Linked DNA regions of Homo sapiens: region 2 is linked to region 1. A link means that fine-mapping ties the variant in region 1 to the expression of a gene that starts in the linked region. Tissue or cell type: monocytes after R848. Region 1 holds a variant in brackets; the other region holds the start of a gene. All regions are shown on one strand. Distances are from middle to middle.

Evidence for each region. PIP is the estimated chance that this variant, and not a neighbour inherited with it, causes the effect.
Region 2: FOXF1 starts here. The variant in region 1 is fine-mapped to the expression of FOXF1 in monocytes after R848 (Quach 2016, PIP 0.95).

The regions. Positions count from the first base shown.
Region 1 is chr16:86,330,825-86,338,924 of GRCh38, forward strand. It overlaps LINC00917 (long intergenic non-protein coding RNA 917), which reads right to left. Exons shown (of 7, transcript NR_024406.1): 2 at 7,926-8,008; 3 at 6,858-7,837; 4 at 6,537-6,768; 5 at 2,864-3,083; 6 at 2,135-2,220; 7 at 1,026-1,854. Among named protein-coding and RNA genes, the nearest start is that of LINC00917, 11 kb to the right of the region's middle. RefSeq lists a silencer at 6,399-6,693 and an enhancer at 6,518-7,449. The variant T/C (reference allele first, on the strand shown) is at 3,628.
Region 2 is chr16:86,506,952-86,515,051 of GRCh38, forward strand. It overlaps FOXF1 (forkhead box F1), which reads left to right and starts at 3,576. Exons shown (of 2, transcript NM_001451.3): 1 at 3,576-4,597; 2 at 5,974-8,100. The coding sequence starts at 3,619. The coding sequence ends at 6,134. FENDRR (FOXF1 adjacent non-coding developmental regulatory RNA) reads right to left here and starts at 1,909. Exons shown (of 4, transcript NR_033925.1): 1 at 1,704-1,909. RefSeq lists an enhancer at 5,069-5,835.

The sequences.
Region 1 (8,100 bases):
AAGGTATTTCCTGGAGGTGTTTGCGAAAGTCCATCCAAGCCAGGGGGTCGCTGAACCTCAGGAACTGACCAGCCCCTCCTCCAGCAGAGTGCCGTAGGGGAAAGAGAATTCCACATGGACCCTATTTTTGTAGCATTTTCCCTGAAATAGGAAGGCAAGATTCTGTCTCATGTTGCATGCTGGTGGCTTTCCCTCCCGCGAGCACTCCCACCCTCTGAAGGAAGGACTTCCCTTGGCCTCTTGCTTCCTTAGCAGATTTCCTCAGGCCCTCGCTCAGGGGAATGCCGACTCCGCAGGAAGACACCCGCGACCAAGGCCTGCCCCAGGCCCTCGCTATCTGACCGTGGATCCCACTTGAATCCTTTCCGTTCCTCTGGAAGGAGCGGAGAGGGCTTTGCCCCGTAGAATCATCAGAGATCGGATGGTCTCAGCTTTAGCTCAAGGAAGATGCCCCTCAAATGTGCTTCCTCCAAGCATCTAGGGACCTGATGGGAGGTGGTGCATCCTGCCTGTCCCATGGAGGACCCTTTGATGAGGTGTTTGGCTCATTACCCACCACTTTGGGAAGTTGCAGGGTGCATCAGGGCGGAAGCAAGGGCATGGGGTCTGCTGTCGAACTTCCGCTCTCCCTTCTGGCTACGGATTGAGGCTTGCTGGGTTATCTGGGAAGGGACCGCACGGGTTGCCTGACGAAATAAGGACGCCCAGGTACATCTGCATTTCAAGTAATAATAAACGTTTCTTACAATAGCATGAAACATACTTTTATAAATGTGGTGTGTTGTTTATCTAAAATTCAACTCTACCTGGGCATTCTGTATTTTTATTTGCTGAATCTGACAACTCACACAGTGTCAAAAAACTGGCACACGGTAGGCTCACAGAAAAGCATTTCCTTCACGATGTTTGTCCATTAAATAGATATTTTTTGTGAGCCTACTGGCCACGAGGTCCTGGGGACACAGCAGGGAATACCACAGTATCAGTTTCTTATGCCTGCCCTAACAAATTCCCACAAATCTAGTGGCAGAAACAACACACATTTATTAGTTTACAGTTCTGGAGGTCAGAAGTCCAGCACAGGCCTCACTGGGCTAAAATTAGGGTGTTGACAGGGCTGGTTCCTTCTGGTGGCCCCAACGCAGCGTCTATTCCTTGTCTTTTCCAGAGACTACCACGTTCCTTGGTTTGTAGCCCCTTAATCTTCAAAGTCAGCAGTTGCATTTTGAGTCCTTCTCATGACACCATGACTGGTTCTCTCTTTTGTCTCATTCAGGATCATCTCCCTACTTTAAGGTCGGCTGATTAGCAACCTTCACTCCACCTGCCACCTTAATCCCTCTTTGCCATGGCACCTAGTGGAATCCCAGGTTCCAGGGATTAGGATGCAGATGTCTTGGATGGCATCACCTGCTAGCACAGGTCCCTTTTCCCTCCTCCTGTCCATGCCCAGCCCCTCTCCCAACCCAGAGGAACCAGGCACCAGCTTGGCTTCGGGGCCTGGAGAGAAGTCCTTGAGTGATGGCAATGGTGACACCCATGATAGCAATGAGAGCAGCAGTCACAATGACGGACCAGATGGCTCTCCAAGCACAGACGCTTCTGTGAGTGTTTCTTTCTTTCACCACCCAGTGATCCTGTGACTTGCTGGGTTCACACAGCCCGAGTGAGTGGGGATGTAATGGTGCATTATCAGGCTCAGAATCCCAAGCTTTCCCTCCACACCGCAGTCCACAGGACCACGAGTTTCCTCGTGGCAGGGACCATGCTCATCTTTGTGAGTAGACAGGCTGCTTCAGCCAAGAGCAATGATCTGGACTCAGAGCTCAGGGCCAACTCCTGCTGGATGTAAACCTGGGGGACAGGGGATGGGGGGGTTCGTCATCCATCAACCGGGGGTCCATAGCCCACCTTGCCGGGTTGTTGTGAGGATTAAATGAGGTTATCTAAGGGTTTCCTGAGACATTGAGAGCCTCAGCAAACGGGAGTCAAGATTAAGACTCTGCACCCAGTCTTCCCCATGTGTCTGTGGGGCACGATCCTTGTGGTGTGTGCTGTGCTGTGGGAGGGATTGAGTGCACTGAGCAAAGAACATCCACTCTCCAGCGTGAGTGCTTAATTCCATGCAACAAACCTTTCTGTGCTCCTACTGTGTGCCAGGCTCTGGGTGAAGTGCTGAGGACTCGAAGATGACTTAGGTTCAAGGCTTTGCCCTTTCATCTATGCAAATTACAGATAAAGTCAGATTGCCTCCAAATAATTTGATAAGGCCATCATTATTATTATAAATAAAAAGAGTAATAACACCTAATATGTTGAGAATTTGTACGTGACAGTCACTATTCTAAGCAATTTTCCTGGACTGCCGCATTTCCTTACAGGGACCCGGGTGGGAGGTACTATTCTTATCCCTATTTTACAGATAAGCAGGAAATTGTTGCTCTGCATGGTTACCTAGATGGTTCCAGGTCAAATGGCTAGAAAGGAAGGGAATCAACATTTGAACCCAAGACCAGGAGTAAAAAGGGCTTGCAACAGGAAACATAATCGGGGGTGCAGCTCCCATGGGACACGAACTCTCTACTGAAGCTGAATATGAGCACAGCCTCCCACCTGGAGATTCCACATTTAGGCACAATTGCAAGAAAAATGTGTCCACGTCCACAAAAGGACCATCACCAGAGCATTCGGGCATCACTGTTTGTAACAGCCAATGACCAGAAACTCCTTCAATGCTTTTCAACACTAGGATGGATCAGTGAATTATGGGATAGGTATGCAGAGGAATATCATGGAAAAATGAGAATGCACAAATCTTGCCACACACAACAGCAAGGGTGCGTCTCCCTAATATAACACTTACCAAAGGAATCCAGGCACCGAAGGGTATGCCCTGTGTGACACCCTTTAAAATGCTCACAACCAGGTGCACAGGTCTCCATTTGCAGGGGCGTCAAGCTGGGCTGCAGCTGCTTTCCCCTGCTTGGTCCCAGGTTGGAGTTGGTGGGAAGAGGAAAGTGAGAGGGATCTGGAAGTTGGAAGTGGAGCAGCTGCCACGACCCCCGAAAGTCCTTGTGGCTGTCCTGGGGAGAGACAGGCAAGGAGGTGCTGATTGATGACAACTTGCTCTTGTTCTCCCTGTCTCCCCAACTGTAAGCCTCACTGACCACCAGTGACCCAGGGACCACCAGTCACAGAAGCAGCTGTGCCCCGCAGACCCCTCCACTGCCTCCCGTCCCCATTCTCCACGTGCCAGCCGGCTTTCTGGATTTCCCTGCAAGCTGCACTCACTGATGTTTCTGGAAGCCTCCTTGGGGAGGAACTTGCTTCTGAACCCCCCTAGTTCCTCCCACAATTGCGGAGGGTCTAAATCCCTGTCATAAATCTGTTATTCCACACCACTCGTAGTAGTTCTGCCTCCCTCATTGGCTGGGGCGTCACAGGCGTTATCAGGAGGTGGGAGTGGCAGCCAGGAGGGGCACCGGAGCCTCTGGGCTGAGGGGCTGGCTCCAGGGCAGGGATGATTTCACAAAAATTCACTAAGCTGCATGCCTGTGATTTGCATACTTGTCTGTATTTTTGTTGTATTTCAACATGCAATCTTTAAAGGGTGTTTTAAAGGGTGTT[T/C]TGCTATCACAGTCACTTTTATCATGATGCATATTAAGTTCCCAAAACAGAGGCAGAAGGCACAGAAAATGGTTTCACTTGATGAGTCTGCCAGACTCCTGGGCTGGGATGAGCAGGGCAGGGACCGCCTTATCTTCTGTGAATTCCCAGGGCCTGACTGCCCCTAACCCAGGGTGGGGCTCAGTGAAGGCCACTGTGAGGAGGCTGGGTGCACACAGCGGGGGAACCGGTACAGAGGGGGCCTGGGTCAGAGGGGGCCTGGGAGGAGGGAAGACGGGGATGGGGAAGGGATGGTTCCCATCTCTTCGGGAGGAGAGCCTTGAGTGGCTTGTCCTTTCCATTTTAAGAGTCTCTTATCTCAGAGGACATTGCCCAGAGCAAGGGACGGCACTCAGAAACTCATAAACCGCTTTCCCACCAGCTCTTCCAGGGACCCTGAGAAAGACCCTCACTTTGGGATTGAGGGGCGGAGACCAGGGGGATTCTCCGGACTCTGGCTCTCCTGGGTCTGAGTGAAATTTCAGCCTCTGGGGTCTCAGCTTCCTGCTAAGAAATGGCTTTTGTTTCTTCAACAGTTACTGAAAGAGGATTGCTATGGGTCAGGGGCTGTTCTTTCTCGGCCAAAATGGACAAACCTGTATCTCCCAAGGATCCCTGTCTAGGAAGGAATACAAAATAAGTTTCTCTGCAAATTACATATATAATTTTTTATATAATTAATATACATATGTTAGATTTTATATATAATTAATATGTAATTACATATCTATACATATATTTGCATACTTTGTATATTTATTTTTTACCACCTTCTCTACTTTCTGTGCAGGTCCTGGTGCCACCCTCTGTCACCTGGGTCATCACAGTAGCCCAGAACGCGCCTCCCTGCTAGCGCCTGGCCTGCCACTGGTCAGTTCTAACACAGCAGCCAATGTGATTCTTTAACACCTGAGTTGGGTCCCATCTCGGCCCTGCTCCGAACCCTCCAACAGCTTCCAACTCAGCCAGGTGTAATCTGAGGCTCTTAACAGGGCCCAAGGCCTCCCCGAGCCAATCCCACCTGCCCCTCCCCCTCGCTGCGTCCACTCCGGCCTCCTGCCTGCCCCTGGATGGCCCCTGCACCTCTGGCCACGGCACCATCTCTGCACTGGCTCCTCTTGTCTCTGCAGGAGTGCGGAGATCTGGGGATCCAGTAGTGGCCACCCCTCCCTCCCTTCAGGCCCTACCTAAACAACATCACGCAGCACCCGCAGTCTCCAGCCTGTTTCCCTGCCTTATTTTCCTTCGCAGGACTTGACACCCGCAGGCCCGGGGCCTCATGGATTGTGGGTCCTCCCGCACTGAAATGGAAGCTTCCTGAGGACAGGGTCTTTGCTGGCTTCTCCCGCATAGAGACCAGGGCCTGGAATGCACTGTAGCTGCTAAAGAAATATTTGCTGGCCTAATGAATGAATGAATGAATGAATGATTCATCCTTGCCCCGCCCCTTGCTCCCTCCACCCACCCTCCCCGGCCTCTGGGCCAGTGGCTGCCATTTCCGATGAATGTGAATAGATGGTCTCCTGGGAGCCGCCTTTTCCTGCTAGACTTCCAAGGGCCTGTGTTCCCGAGACAAAAGGGCCTCTGGCCCACTTGCCATCCCTCCCAGCACACAGGCTTATGAAGGGCGAACACCCTGGGACCTGGTGACTGTTAAAGCCTTTATCACCCTTTCCTCATAAACCTCTACTCTGAAACCAGCCAACCCCCTCATCTTTGCAAAGCTTTTCAGGGAAGGGTGGACGGCAGTGAGTTGTCTGCAAACTTTGAGTAGGATCTGAGCACAGGGTCCCTCCCTCCCGGTCTCCTTCTGCTCTGTGCTTTCCCTCTTTCTCTCCCTTCCCTTCCCCTGCCTGTCTCCCACCCCTTTTCATCTTCTGTCTGCTTCCTCCTGTGGGGACAGCAGAACCTATTCCAGTCTCCGCTGGGCTGGAAGCCCTCGGCCTCCATGGGGAGCCTGGGCCCCCAAGCCACAGGGAACAGCAACAGGGGAGTCAGCCTCCTCATCCCCACGCAAAGAGTGCTCAGCCCCTTCATCCCCACGCAGAGAGGGCTCAGCCCCTTCATCCCCACGCAGAGAGGGTTCGGTCTCCTCATCCCCACGCAGAGAGGGGTCGGCCTCCTCATCCCCACGCAGAGGGGGTTCAACCTCCTCATCCGCACGCAGAGAGGGCTCAGCCTCCTCAGTCCCACGCAGAGAGGGTTCAGCCCCTTGATCCCTACGCAGAGGGGGCTCAGCCTCCTCATCCCCACGCAGAGAGGGCTCAGCCTCCTCATCCCCACGCAGAGGGGGTTCAGCCTCCTCATCCCCACGCAGAGAGGGCTCAGCCTCCTCATCCCCACGCAGAGAGGGCTCAGCCTCCTCATCCCCACGCAGAGGGGGTTCAGCCTCCTCATCCCCACGCAGAGGGGGTTCAGCCTCCTCATCCCCACGCAGAGGGGGTTCAGCCTCCTCATCCCCACGCAGAGAGGGCTCAGCCTCCTCATCCGCACGCAGAGAGGGCTCAGCCTCCTCAGTCCCACGCAGAGAGGGTTCAGCCCCTTGATCCCTACGCAGAGAGGGTTCAGCCTCCTCATCCCCACGCAGAGAGGGTTCAGCCTCCTCATCCCCACGCAGAGAGGGCTCAGCCTCCTCATCCCCACGCAGAGGGGGCTCAGCCTCCTCATCCCCACGCAGAGGGGGTTCAGCCTGGGCTGCAGGAAGCAAACCCCTGACCCGCTGCAGGCTGACCCCAGACACTGAAGGTTGTGCGGGCCTTAAGGCCGTGCTGGGAGATTCAGGGGGTGACACCCGGGGGCTCATTTCCTGAGCTAGGAGATGCAGGGGCGGGGAGTGGGGCACAGCGCTGCCAGCAGAGGCTGAGACGCACCTGAGAGGGGAGGAAGCTTCCGCTCTTCTGGCCTCCCGGATCCGCCAGGGCTCCTGCTGCTCCCACTTCCGCCACCCAGGAGGGCCAGGCCGCCGTCTTGAGTTTCCCTCCAGCCTGGCCTAGGGACGACTCTTCTTCAGTGCCGCCTTCTCCACCGAGTCCTCGCATATTAAGATTCCAGAAGGTTCTGATCTCCTGGTGCTTCAGTGTAAACGAGTGTGTTTGGGGATAGCTGTGGGAAGTCAGGGCTGAGAAAGGAGAAACACTCAGCTCCCCACACACGTTTGTCCCAGGAAACAATAGCCCTCCGTCCCCGCCCACCTGGCCTGTGGGGATCCACTCATTCTTTCACAGATATCCAGGACTGGGTTAGGGAGCCTGGTGGTGGCAGGAGGCCGCCCTCCAGCTCGCTGGCTGCCGTGTGGAAGTCCTTTCTCCTCGGATTCTGATCTAGGGACGGCCCACAAGCTCCTGGCGAGGATGAACTGAGTTCAGTGATGTCAAGCTCGGCACAGTGCCTGTCCACAATGAGCCCAATAATTTTTAGCTATTGTCACGTCGACGGTACCACCCACCTGGATGCCACTCACCTGGACACCATTCACCTGGGTGATGCCCCTCACCTGGACACCACTCACCTGGGTGCCACCACCTGGACACCACTTACCTGGATGCCACTCACCTGGACACCATTCACCTGGGTGATGCCACTCACCTGGACACCATTCACCTGGCTGTCACTCACCTGGGCACCACTCGCCTGGGTGCCACCACCTGGACCCCACTTACCTGGATGTGACTCACTTGGGCACCACTCAACTGGGTGCCACTCACCTGGGTGTTATGCACCTGGACAATGCTAGTCACGTGGATGCCACTCGCCTGGGTGTCACTCACCTGAATGCTACTCACCTGGGTGCCATTTACCTGGATGATGTCACTCACCTGGATGTCGTCACTCACCTGGATGTCACCTAGGTGCCACTTACCTGGATGATATCACTCACCTGGATGCCACTCACCCAGGTGTCACCTGGATAATGCCACTCACCCGAATGCCACTCACCTGGGTGCCACTCACCTGGAAGCTACTCACCTGGATGATGCCACTCACACAGACGCCACTAACCTGAATGTCACTCACCTAGGTGTCACTCACCTGGATGCTACTCACCTGGGTGCCACTCAACTGGGATGTCACTCACCTGGGTGCCACCCACCTGAACACCACTCACCTGGGTGTGTGAGAACAGTGGAAGTTCCTGGAACATAGTTGGCATTCATCCTTCCCAATGCTTGCTCTAGACGAGGAAGCCATGATGTTTGCTCTTCCATTCCCTCCCTCCTCTGAGTCCCCCTCCTCCCCAACCCCATCTCCTTTCTCCTTACCTCATACACAGCCAGCCCTTACATGGTTATTTCTTCATGTCATCTGCCACCTCTGGGCAGCCAGGCTCCCCCAGACTCAAGCCCTGCAAAGAGAGGGTAGGACCTGAACCACCTCACCTGGCACAGCCCACCTGTCCCAGCATGGGCTTCAGACACCAGACCTCATGGGACCCAC
Region 2 (8,100 bases), 180 kb after region 1:
CCAGGAAATTTTGTCCTTGGACGTAGAGAGGGGAGATGGAGAGTGTTCACCTCTCAGTGCTGGCTGATAAGAGATTCAAGTCCATGCTGAGCCTCAGTTTCTCCACCCTAAAAATGTAGGATCAAGGGAGACCTCTCAGGGACATTGTAAGAGCTGAGAATGAAGTCTCTGAGCATGAAGGAAAGCCCTTCTTGCTACGGCTGTGGTTTTCCCCAGAATTCAGGGGGTCCCCTCCAAATTACAGAGCTGGGAGCTCATTCGCCTCCTCTCTCACGCCCCCACTTCTACACACACCCAGCAGTAGAGATGAGCAGTTGGGGAGAGCCTCCATCTTTGGCCTTCCTGAGACTCCCAGGCCTACTGGGCCGGCTCTTTCGCTGGGCTCCGTGACTGGCTGTTCTGTAAGGTCTGGTTTGCTATCAGAGCCGGTGAAAGGGCAGAAAGAAGGGTGGAAAGGAGGGAAAAATGGATCTCCGGGTTAGCCAACGATGGGACCTGCGGCTTCCCTTCCCCAACTGAAGAGGGCCCAGGAGTGAAGGAGTCTGCTGGGAAAGGGCTCCCCAACTTCATGCTCTAGGGACCCGCTCACTTTGAAGGCGCCCCATGAGTGGGGGAGGGGCGAGGGGAAGGGAGATGCTATTTCCACTTTCAGCGAGCCGCAGCGTGCGCCCTGCACCCCTAGCTGGCTTAAGAGCTGTGCAGCCTTCTCTGCTCACCTCTGCTAAGGGCCAGATGTGCTCTGGCAGTCGGCAGTAGCGACCCCTTCCTGGGAACAGAACTTTCCTCCGGAGGCCAGGGTCTCCTCATCTGCAACTGCCATTTGCCACACACACACACACAAAAGTTGGGAGAGAATGTGAGAATGCTTGTGTTCGTGGACGCGTGCGCACGTATGGAGCGGCGGTACCTATGATTATTTGCGCGTGGCGCCTGGCTATGCGTGGGCGAACGCGCAGTGGAGAACATGTGGGCGTGCATGAAGTGTGCACTTAAACCAAAGTGTGCCCTCCCCGTTGGGCAGGCCTGTGTGTTGGTCCAAGGGTTGGGAGCGCCTGAGCTGTGTGAGGGTCGCTGGGAAGGGTGTTTGAGGCCGTGGGCGGTGCGGAGCGTGTCTGTGTGCGCGGAGGCTGAGCTGGTTGTGTGAAGTGGTAGCGGGTCTGCCAGAGAGCGTTTACCTGCGTGAATGCACAACCACACACTACGGGTCACGTCCCACACTCATTCTTTCCCTAGGCGGGCCAGGCTGTCTGCACGCGGAGACCCAGAGAGGCCAGCGGAAGGGCAGCGCGGGAAGGCGGCTCTCTTCTCCCGCGAGCGCAGATCTGGCGGAGGAGGCGGCGACTGCCCGGCAGGCTGCGCCGGCGAGCCCCCCAGCTCCTCTCACCGACGTGCCAGGCGCCCCGAAGGCGACAGGCGTCTCCCGCCGAAAATGAAGGCGTCCGAGCCAGGAAGGTGGGGGCGGGTAGTTAGCGGGAGACAAGGAGTCCGGAGAAAACCGAGAGGCGGGTAGGCTTTGAACGCGCCGCGCCGCGGGCCGTGCTGCGAGCCCGGCACACGCCTCTCGCCCCAGCTCGCGCTGGGGCTTGGCCTCTAGGCTCTTCGCGATGACCCGCGAAAACACCCCTCGCCCCCCTCTTCTCAACTCGGAACCCTGGAGGGAGAGGCCGCGCCCGGCCAGCAGTCGCTGCGAGAGCAGCACTCACCTGGGTCTGTGCGCGCCGCGATGCGCCGGGGCTCCTGCGCTGTCCTGCGCTCCGCTCTCGGCACCACCTTTCGTGGCTCCACCGCCCCCAGCCCGCACCCGAGCGCTGAGGTGGCAAGGGCAGGTCTGCGTGCGAGCCCCCTGCGGGCTGGCAGCCAGGTGCGCGAGGGCCGCCCTTGCCGGCGCTCCCAGCCCGCGCTGTCTGCTCTCAGGAACCTGGCCTGGCGCGCAGTGTCAGAGGCCCCGCGGCGGCGGCAGGCCGAGCCCACAGGGGCATTAGGCCAACTCCCCCCTCCCGCCCTGCGCACGCGGAATTCTCTATTATTATTATTAAAGAATCCCCCAGAACTTGTTTACGTTAAACCCTGTAAACTTCCTGCCAGGGCCTTTGCCATCTCTCGGGAAATCGGAACCTGCGCTTTGAAAACGGGGCCGCGGGGCCAAATAGGCGGGTTTTCAGTGTGTGTTGGGGGTGGGGGAGGGCAACTGAACTACGTGTGAGTTCAGATCCGAGCGTGGCGTGTGTACGCGTGAGTGGGAGTGAGTGCGAACTTAAGCTCCTGTGGGCCTTAAGCTTCCGTGTCAACGAGTGCATTAGTGGGTGCGCACATGCCTGAGCGCCCTCTGCATATGAGTGTGCACACACGCATGGGTGTGTTTACACGTCTGTTTGCGTAATTTACCGGGTTTGCATGTGCATCAAGACATGTATGTGTGTGCTAATGTGTGGACAAGAGCGCGAGGGTGTGCGCGCACGGGTGAGTGACTGAGCACGCCGCTTATTCAGGGGCCTGTGCGGTCTGGGTCGCCTCTGGGCCAGCGGGTTCTCACTCGCCCCCGTCAGGCCCGCGGCGCCCGAGACAAAGCGGCCGCGACTCGTGCTGCGCTTTCGTTTTCCGCCTGCGCTCTGCCCCGGCGGCTGCCCGCCCGCTCGCAAGCTGCTGGGCGAGTCCGAAAAATCCCGGGAGCGGCGCAGTTCTTCCCGGGGCGGGGAGAGTGGGTAGGCGGTCCCTCGCGGGAACTTAGCCGGCCGGCCGCGAGGACCGGAGTCGAGCCGGCTGTGCCTGCGATGGTCACGACCGGGAGGCCGCCGCACTTGCGATTTGCTACAGGGCTGTGCGCGTCGGGGAAGGCCCCGGCCCAGGGAGCGTTTCCCGCCGCGCCGCCCGGGCGGGGAAGGCGGGGTCCAGCGCGCACCGGGGCTGAACCGCGGGCGGAGGGCGCATTAACACTTGCTCGCCAGGTTGGTGGAGGCGGGGCGGATTCTGCTGGCGGCCGCGGGGCGGCGAGAGTGGGGGCTCTTTAAGCGCCCACCAACGCGGGGGCCCGAGGGGGGCAGGGACGGAGGGAGGGAACTCCGGGAGGGTCTTAGGCCGACCCGCGAGACGCAGCCGAGCGGAGATGGAGTGAAGGCTGCCTCGCCCGGAATCTCGGAGCCGAGCGCCGCGGGCGGCGGGGACTCAGGGCTGCTCCCGGCTGGGGCGCACGGCCGTAAGACCTGGAGGTGGTGCCTCCCCCCAAAAAATACCGGCGGGGGTAGCTTCCTCACGGCCTTCGCCCGGGCTGCCCTCGGCCTCAGCTCGGCTCCTTTCCTTGTGGGAGGGCGAGAAAGAAAGAGGGAGGAGAGAGGTGGGGGAGGCGGGAGTTGGAGAGAGAGGGGCTCTGAGCCAACCGCCGGCGGATCCAGCAGCTCCTCGGGGAGGGCGGGCGGGAGCGCGGGGGCGGGCGCGCCGCGGCTCGCTCGGGAGAAGTGGCCGCCGATGACGGCAGAGGTGCAGCCAGCCCCGCGCGCGCAGCCCCCTCCCCTTCGCCCTCCTCCCCCCCGTCGTCCTCTTCCTCCTCCTCCTCCTCCTCCTCCCGGCCCGTCCGCGGCGCAGAGCAGCGGCGGCAGCGGCGGCGGCGGCAGCAGCCACCCGATGTCTTCGGCGCCCGAGAAGCAGCAGCCACCGCACGGCGGCGGCGGCGGCGGCGGCGGGGGAGGCGGCGCGGCCATGGACCCCGCGTCGTCCGGCCCGTCCAAGGCCAAGAAGACCAACGCCGGCATCCGGCGCCCGGAGAAGCCGCCCTATTCCTACATCGCGCTCATCGTCATGGCCATCCAGAGTTCACCCACCAAGCGCCTGACGCTGAGCGAGATCTACCAGTTCCTGCAGAGCCGCTTCCCCTTCTTCCGGGGCTCCTACCAGGGCTGGAAGAACTCCGTGCGCCACAACCTCTCGCTCAACGAGTGCTTCATCAAGCTACCCAAGGGCCTTGGGCGGCCCGGCAAGGGCCACTACTGGACCATCGACCCGGCCAGCGAGTTCATGTTCGAGGAGGGCTCCTTTCGGCGGCGGCCGCGCGGCTTCCGAAGGAAATGCCAGGCGCTCAAGCCCATGTACAGCATGATGAACGGGCTCGGCTTCAACCACCTCCCGGACACCTACGGCTTCCAGGGCTCGGCCGGCGGCCTCTCGTGCCCGCCCAACAGCCTGGCGCTGGAGGGCGGCCTGGGCATGATGAACGGCCACTTGCCGGGCAACGTGGACGGCATGGCCCTGCCCAGCCACTCGGTGCCCCACCTGCCTTCCAACGGCGGCCACTCGTACATGGGCGGCTGCGGCGGCGCGGCGGCCGGCGAGTACCCGCACCACGACAGCTCGGTGCCCGCCTCCCCGCTGCTGCCCACCGGCGCCGGTGGGGTCATGGAGCCGCACGCCGTCTACTCGGGCTCGGCGGCGGCCTGGCCGCCCTCGGCGTCCGCGGCGCTCAACAGCGGCGCCTCTTATATCAAGCAGCAGCCCCTGTCCCCCTGTAACCCCGCGGCCAACCCCCTGTCCGGCAGCCTCTCCACGCACTCCCTGGAGCAGCCGTATCTGCACCAGAACAGCCACAACGCCCCAGCCGAGCTGCAAGGTGAGTGGGGAGGCCGAGGGCGCCCTGGTCCCCGGGAAGTCGAGTCTGAGTGGCAGCGGGACCCAGCTGGGGCGAGCCCCTCCACTTCTGTGGTCGGAACCCCAAGGCTGAGGGGAGGCACCAGCTCCCCAAGGTGTCTCTTGGCCCCACCTCTCCCCCTTCGAAGAGTGACTACCGCTCTTGACCCTAGTTTGGGCCAATCTGTTTCTCTTTCTGTTCGAACTCCAGCTGCCAGCTGCTCCAGGCCTGACCAGGTAGGCTGGTCCTGAGCCAGATGTCCCAGACCCCAGTGCCCTAAGTCCTTTTGTGTCCCTTAAGTCCCCTCACAGCTTGGAAAGATCCTGGGATGGACCCAAGGCTCCCAGCGCTGGCCAGATGGCTGTCCCTCCCTGGTGGTGGCCCTCAGGCTGCCTGGAGGGCTGCCTCTGCCTGGGGCTGGGCGGAACGGAAGGTGTTAGGCCCAAAGCCGCTGGGCCAGCGCTCAGAGGCTCAGCCCCGGCCTTTCAGGGGACCAGACCTGGCAGACCCACAGCTGAGTCCAGGGGCATTTTGTGGTGACTGAGGCAGGAGGGTGCCGTGGCCAGGCCCCGGAGGGTCAGAGCTGCAGACCGGGCCATGGGGGCTCCTTGTTTTTTAGGATCCAAGTTTTCAGGTCCCCACACCCCCAACACCCCTGATACCCCAATACCCCGAACATGCAGAAGCATCTGCCAAGGGAGATGCAGCAGCCTCGCCTCCTGATTCTGCCCCAGGCCCCCCGCAGCCTGCAGGCCCAGCTCTGGAAAAAGCTGGAGTGAGCTTGCCAGGGCCAGTCCAGGGTCAGCTGTCAGCAGCCCCAGGAGGCAGGAGCCAGGCCTGGAGGCCTTAGGCAGCCTCTCTGCGGGGGACTCCCCGGCTCCGGGGCCTGTTCTCTGGAGAAGCTTCTTCTCACCCCTGCTGCTGGCCCGGCGCTGGCCCTGCACTGGCCTCTCCTTCAACCCCGCCGGCAGTCGTAGCCTCTGAGGTTGGGGGTGGTGGTGGCTGCCCTGGCGGTGACGGCCATGGGCGTTAGGGGCCCTCCACTTGGTCTCCCTCACCACTTCCCCTATGGCTCTGGAAGCCCTGGGCCCCTGCACGGTGTCCGAGGCTGGACAGGCACGCAGCAGGCAGGCAGGCAGGCAGGCAGGCAGGCCGTGGCAAGTGTTCTGGAGTCTTTTCCTTGGGTGCGCAGCTGGAAGGCCGGGACTCGGGGAGGAGAGCGGGGAGGCGGCCGTGCTCTGGAGCCAGGCTGACAGGCCCTGTGCGCCCCACGGGAGCACTGCTCCTCTGCCTGAACTCTGAGCCACCGTGGCTAACTCTTCTGCTCCCCCAACCCCTCCTGTCGCCTCGCCTTGCAGGCATCCCGCGGTATCACTCGCAGTCGCCCAGCATGTGTGACCGAAAGGAGTTTGTCTTCTCTTTCAACGCCATGGCGTCCTCTTCCATGCACTCGGCCGGCGGGGGCTCCTACTACCACCAGCAGGTCACCTACCAAGACATCAAGCCTTGCGTGATGTGAGGCTGCCGCCGCAGGCCCTCCTGGTGCAGGCAGGCGGGTCACAGGGACCCTGGACCGGCACAAGAAACTGCTTTCTTCTCGAGGTATAACCGTCGGCAGAAGAAAAGGGTTCCACCTCTCCCCAACCGGAGTTTTTGGCAAGGAGTCCCCAATGCAAAGACACAGCGCTGCGGTTGGCACCTCCTTCCTCACTCCTTCAAAATTGTTAAGAAATGTTAGTGGTGGGTCTGATCTGACTGCAGCCATCGGTAAATAAAAGTTTTTGATCCTGTTGAACCCGCCTGAGACGGTGCTGTGCAGGGGAAAGCCCCCGCACCCACACAGGAATTCTGCTGAGGTCCCCCCTCCTTCCGGCCAATGGCAGAAGTGGGGGAAAATTTTTAGAAGAAAAGCAAACATGTGAGACCAATCATTATCAAATACTTTTATTTTTTGGTTGAGTATTTATCTTTTTATTTTTTATTTTTTTTTTGAAAGAATGTCTTGGAATGCGCAAGTCTCCCTTTAGAGCCGTCTTTTGCAGGGAGCGGGAAGTGACAAGAGCTCAGATCTCCCTCCCGATCTCCCTCCCCACCTCCGAAGTCTCCTCCGTGGACCACAGGTGGATCTTTGTGCGAACAACTTGCATTTCGGAAGCCACTGTCCGTCTTTAAACAGAAAGTCAAAGGAGCCACGAAGCAAGCGGCCGTCCGGGCGTCCGCCTCCGTCCCCTTCCATGTTCCTCCTCTTCCTTCGCTTCAGCCTCTTCTGTTATGTTTTGTCTTGAATTTTATTTAGACTTTTTCAGTGGGTATTTTTCTGTCTCCCAACCTCTACTGTAAACTTTCTGGTCCGAGAACGAGCCGAACACAGCGCGACGCAGGGACTAGGACGGCCCGGTGACCGCGCGGATTCAGGATTGCGGGGACGCAGAAAGGTTAAGGCACTTTTAAAAACTATAGCAAGGCTCCTGTTTATTTATTCTACTTTCTTTCCCTAATAATCAAAACACCGCGTAGGCTCCTCCGTTTATCAGTATTAATGGTGTAACTTTGTTGGCAATATTTGCCGTGTAGAATTTTTTTTAGATATCCATTGTAAATTTGAAACAAAGACCGATCTGTGTAAAAACAAATTTCCATATGTTTTATATAAATATATATATAATATGAAGGACTACCCTCCTTTTTTTTTTTTGTATTTTGGCTGCTAGAGTGCAGCATTTGTGACACGTATTTGAAATTTGAAATTTCCTTCTGCACTGTATAAAAGGACCATTTGAGGATGTTTTGCCTTTTGTGTATTTTTTCCTAAAAAAAGAACAAAAATAAAAATGTATAACATTTGTACATGGCCTTTAAAATTGTATCAACTAGAAATAAAATTGCATGAGTATTTTATTGGGACTGAGATTGTAGAATACCTTCCAGACTCCCAAAGATAGAGGGGGGAAAAAAGAAAAAACAGGCTTTGGATCTCTAGACGCTTAAAAATTTACAATCTGGGTGATTCTGAGTACTTTTTTCTTTTTTGGCAAATCCTCCTCTTTTCACTCTTCATTCCACTTTGAAGTAAACGCTGGACAAGAGGAACTATTTTTCTTGGCTTCTGTTTTTTAAGAAGAGCCCTTTGCCCCTCTAAATGTCATTGATCGTTTTAAAGAAATAAACTTTTAAAGAACACTATAGACCTCCTTCCCCTAGGGAACACCAATTAAACCATATATGTGCACATACATATGGATATACATATATATGTATATACATATATGTACATATATGTATACGTGTCCATGTACATAATATATATTTTTTTGCCACTACAAGACCAATGAGAGTTTTACTTTGGGTTTCCGACTTTCTTGTTCTCTTGCTGTAGCTGTTATAAATCGTGAATCAACTTTAAGGTTTTTTTGTAGTTGTTGGTTTGTCTTGTTTTGTTTTGGCTTTTTGGTGCCTTGTTCTTGGTTTTCCCCGATAGAAAATCA